Linked DNA regions of Homo sapiens: region 1 is linked to region 2. A link means that fine-mapping ties the variant in region 2 to the expression of a gene that starts in the linked region. Tissue or cell type: whole blood. Region 2 holds a variant in brackets; the other region holds the start of a gene. All regions are shown on one strand. Distances are from middle to middle.

The links. PIP is the estimated chance that this variant, and not a neighbour inherited with it, causes the effect.
Region 1: HAUS6 starts here. The variant in region 2 is fine-mapped to the expression of HAUS6 in whole blood (TOPMed, PIP above 0.99). The same link has a PIP of 0.9 or more in T cells, lymphoblastoid cells and thyroid.

What each region holds. Positions count from the first base shown.
Region 1 is chr9:19,101,933-19,104,576 of GRCh38, reverse strand. HAUS6 (HAUS augmin like complex subunit 6) reads left to right here and starts at 1,673. Exons shown (of 17, transcript NM_017645.5): 1 at 1,673-2,053. The coding sequence starts at 1,926. RefSeq lists an enhancer at 1,431-1,994.
Region 2 is chr9:19,068,433-19,070,932 of GRCh38, reverse strand. HAUS6 (HAUS augmin like complex subunit 6) reads left to right here. Exons shown (of 17, transcript NM_017645.5): 12 at 633-714. Among named protein-coding and RNA genes, the nearest start is that of RRAGA, 20 kb to the right of the region's middle. The variant C/T (reference allele first, on the strand shown) is at 1,446.

The sequences.
Region 1 (2,644 bases), 34 kb before region 2:
GCTCATTCCTTGGGAGGTCAAGGTGGGCAGGTCGCTTGAGCCCAGGAGTTCGAGCCCAGCCTGGGCAACTTAGTGGCTTTTCTTTCTTTCTCTCTCTCTCTCTCCTCTTTTTTTTTTTTTTTTTTGAGACAGAGTCTCACTTTGTCGCCCAGGCTGGAATGCAGTGGAAGGATCTTGGCTCACTGCAACGTCTGCCTCCCGGGTTCAAGCGATTCTTCTGCCTCAGCCTCCCGAGTAGCTGAGCTGGGATTACAGGCATGCGCTACCACGCCCGGCTAATTTTGTATTTTTAGTAGAGACGGGGTTTCTACATGTTGGTCAGGCTGGTCTCGAACTCCCCACCTCAGGTGATCCGCCCACCTTGGCCTCCCAAAGTGCTGGGATTATAGGCGTGAGCCACTGTGCCCCGCCTCTCTCTCTTTTATTAAGGTGATTTTAGTGAGGCAGGAGACAATCATTGCCAGAGGTAGCAATGAGACTTAAAAGCAGGTTACCCAATCCACTTCCAGGCCCTGTTGTCAGTGGGGTTTGTGGTAGGCAACAGCTGTCAATTAAGACGACGGGCCGGGTGCGGTGGCTCACGCCTATAATCCCAGCACTTCGGGAGGCCGAGGAGGGCGGATCACGAGGTCAGGAGATCGAGACCATCCTGGCTAACAGGGTGAAACCCCGTCTCTACTAAAAATACAAAAAATTAGCCCGGCGTGGTGGTGGGAGCCTGTAGTCCCAGCTACTCGGGAGGCTGAGGCAGGAGAATGGCGTGAACCTGGGAGGCGGAGCTTGCAGTGAGCCGAGATTGCGCCACTGCACTCCAGCCTGGGAGACAGAGCTAGACTCCGTCTCAAAAAAAAAAAAAAAAAAAAAAAAAAAATTAAGAGGACTGCAGGCGGCCAGGCGCAGTGGCTCACGCCTGTAATCCCAGCACTTTGGGAGGCCAAGACCGGCAGATAACCTGAGGTCAGGAGTTCGAGACCAGCCAGCCAACATGGTGAAACCCCGTCTCCATTAAAAATACAAAAAAATTAGCCGGGCGTGGTGGCGGACACCTGTTAATCCCAGCTACTCGGGAGGCTGAGGCAGGAGAATCGCTTGAACCCGGGAGGCGGAGGTTGCAGTGAGCCGAAATCGCGTCACTGCACCCCAACTTGAGCAACAAGAGCGAAACCCCGTCTCAAAAAAAAAAAAAAAAAAAAAAAAGACTGCAGGACTGCAGGGGAGTATAGAGCCAGATTTCATTTAAAGCAGGAAAAGGAACATCCGGCATTTGAGGACATAGATTTCGCTAACGACAGAAATGAGGCTCAGAGATTACGTGACTTGATTAGAGTCACAGTGAGCATAGCGGAGGATGGAACCAATGCTTTAACTCTACACCGAGGCATAGTGCTCCATTTATGGCTTTTTTGTGACGTAACAACTAGGATACACAAGCAAATGGACCCCACTAACCAAGAATCAGAAACCCGAAGGCCCGAGGATCTGGGCACGACAGCGGTTAAGCAAGCGCAGAGCAAGTCGCTGGCCGCGCAATGCCCGGTGGGTCTTGCAGTTTCTTGGCTGGGCATGGCCGGAAGGGAGGAGAGAAGGACGCATTGCATGGCGGGAGATATAGTCTTTGCCGGAAGTCCCTCCTCCCTCGGACGCCTGGCGGCGCCGGCGCACACTGCTCTTCCTTAAGGGCGGGAGTCTCGGTTTGTGGTGGCTTCGCTGAGGCAGTGGTGGCCGCACTATACCGTTAGAAACTCAATTTCCCGGAGGTTGTGAGGCCCTTTGAGGCGAAATCGCTCTGGGCGTGAAAGGAGCAGGCGTTGGCAATGGAAGGACCACCGCGACCTCAGGCTGACCGTAGGGAGGGATCTTGAGGGCCCTCCGAGTCCCCTGGGCTTGCGCTTTCTTTCTTTGCAGCCACCGTGCCTACCGCGAGGATGAGCTCGGCCTCGGTCACCGCTTTCGAGAAGGAGCATCTCTGGATGTATCTGCAGGCGCTCGGCTTCGAGCCAGGCCCGGCAACCATTGCCTGCGGAAAGATCGTGTCGCACACGCACCTCGGAGTGTAAGGAGGCCGGGGCCGGCGGGGCGAGGGAGCCTGAACCGGGGGACGCCGGGGGACTCCCCCTTTTGTAGACCCCGGAGGTTGATTAATCAGAATTGGTTGAGCAGTTACTCTGTGCCAGGCATTGGCTCCAAAGTTCCTACTCCCAGTTGCTGCCAGCCTAGGGGCAGAGACAGACAGTAAATAATGCAAGAGTGCCGGAAGCGCTCTGTAGGGGAGTGCAAAAGTCTGCAGATGGGGAGAGTGCAAGACTGGAGGAGCAGCTTAACTCTGCCTATGTGGTGGAGGGGTGGTCTGTGAAGTAGTGGGAGGGATGGCGGGTGGTAGTGGAAGAGCATGGGAACCATATGTACAAAACACCTTTTGGACTCAAGGGAGCCTTTGAAGGTGGTTGTTTAATTTTATAATTTTTAATTTTTTAATTAGTAAGGCATGTTGGAGTTAGCATAAAACAACGGAGAAGGGTATTAAAAACAAATACCCTTTTAAGAAAAGTATGGAAAGTAAAAGCCCCTTCCCTACTTTTTCCACTTCTGTTTTATCAACTTTAGCCAGTATCTCTATTTAATCATTCCCACTGTAGGCCAAGAG
Region 2 (2,500 bases):
CCTCGTTCTCTCAGTACCTTCATGCCTTCTTCCCACTCTGCAGTCTGGGCTGGATGTCTGTCCTCTGCCTCCTTAAATTCTGTATATACTTCTGTCATAATACTGTAGAAGTATAACATAACACTTGACTCATCACTATCCTTTCCTAGACTGACTCTTCGGAGGCAACATTTCCATCTTTCATTTCTTTCTTCCATTGTTGGTATGGTAGTAGCATGTAGTTATTCAGTCATAGGTTGAAGAATAAATATATAGGTTGACTGATACCATAAATGTGCACTGAAATATGCTAAGACTGTAACTTTTTGGCCTTGCTGGCTTTTGTGATAATCTCATGATCTGTGTATGTAAACATGAAGCATATAACACTGGGGAATTATGGATTCTTAGTCTTTGAGTAACTTGTTTTAGTATTAGCCATCATTTCTTTTATAAAAGCTAGATGTTCTCTATTACTTTTCTGCTCATCACTTTATACTTATCAATTGAATAATTATGTTTTCCTATTAGTGTTCATATTTTGGTTTTTCTGTTTTCTTCTGTTTACAAGTTGTTCTCGAATTTCAAGGAATCCTTGAATGTTAGAATGTACAAACATAATTAAAGAGTAACCAATTTTTAAATTTCTTTAGATGCACATAAGCAACATAACCAAGAAAATGGTTGCAGAGGAGACAGTGATACCTTGGGAGCGCTACATGATCTAGCCAACAGGTAAAACAAATTTGATTTTCTTTTGTTAAACATTAAAAAACTCTTATTTTATAAAAAATAGAGATGGAACTGAGAGGTGAAGCCAGCTGGACTTCTGGGTCTGTTGGGGAGTTGGAGAACTTTTCTGTATTACAAGAGGATTGTAAAAACGCACCAATCACTGGATGTAGTGGCTCACTCCTGTAATCCTAGCACTTTGGGAGGCTGAGGTGGGAAGATCGCTTGAGCCCAGGAGTTCTAGACCAGTACAGGCATAGCAAGACCCTGTCTGTACTAAAAGGAAAAACAAAAGGTGTGGTCTTTCTGGGTTGCAGAGGCTAGTCTTTAACTCTTGGCCTCAAGTGATCCTCCTGCCGGGGCCTCCCAAAGTGCTGGGATTATGGTCATAACCTCCTGTGCCTGACCCAAATTTGATTTTTATATTGATTTTTTTATATATTAATTTTATTCCCATCTTAAACCAGTTTCCAATCTTATTTACTCTGGGATAGTGCATAATTTTGCCTTTTGTTTTTTTTTGAAATGGAGTCTTGCTCTTGTTTCCTAGGCTGGAGTGCAATGGCACGATTTTGGCTCACTGCAACATCCCCGCCTCCTGGGTTCAAATAGTTCCCCTCCTGGGTTCAGGCTACCTCCTAAGTAGCTGGCATTACAAGCGCCTGCCACCACACTTGGGTAATTTTTGTATTTTTAGTAGAGATGAGGTTTCACCATGTTGGCCAGGCTGGTCT[C/T]GAACTCCTGATCTCAGGTGATCTACCCGCCTTGGCCTCCCAAAGTGCTGTGATTACAGATGTGAGCCACCGCACCCGGCCAATTTTGCCCTTTTAACTGGACAATATTTTTCTACCATAGACCCACATTTTCAGAAAAGATCCAACATTTATGATACATGGGCATTTTTTCCTCTTCTATTCTTTATCTAAATATTGAGTTTCATGGGGATTATTTGGAAATTATCTAATGCAAATTTGAGAGTTTTTGCCTTTTTATGTATGTGAACTTTTTTGAAACTAAGTTCAAGTGTTTGGGGGCCTTTGAGATCATCTTGTCCAGATAGTTTTCAGACTACATCCTATAGTGCCATTTGGTGCTGTGGATGTATCTAACATAACCCGTGGCTGGTCCAGCCTTTTCCCACTTTAGCCTTGGGCAACTTGCTCTTTTATATATGTTATATATTGTGGTGTTTGGTAAACTATTCGATAAGAAGAGTTCCATGCTTAAAAAAAAATTGGACAACTTCTGATTTACTATAACCACCAGATTTAACATATGAAAAAACTGGATTTTGTTCTAACTTCCTCCAGTAATATTCCTATTTTCTTTATTGCCTTTTTTTTTCTCTATTATCCCATTTTGGACTAATTACAGATTATATGAGCAAAAAATCTGTGAACTAAATGTATGTAATCCGATTGGGGAACATATTAGTTCTTCATTGAAATTAAACATTATTAAGTAGCAATCAAACACGAAACTTTCCTTTATTAGTTTTTTTTTTTTTAATTGTTTTTTAACCTAAATAGGTGTCTTTCATTACAACTTCCCCAAGTAGATGAGGGACAGATGAAAATAAAATACTTAGGAAAATTATAAAGGAAAATCCTAAATTTTAAATGAAGCACTCATCATTCTATGCCATCTTAGTAAGTTAATAAGCTGTAACACTAACCAGAGTTAAAACTTTTTTTGTAAAATTGAGTTATTGGTAATTGGTTCTGCAGTAATCTAGTTCACAGGCAGTCAGGACTAGTTGTGGAAGAACCATATTTTAGTCTATCTGGAT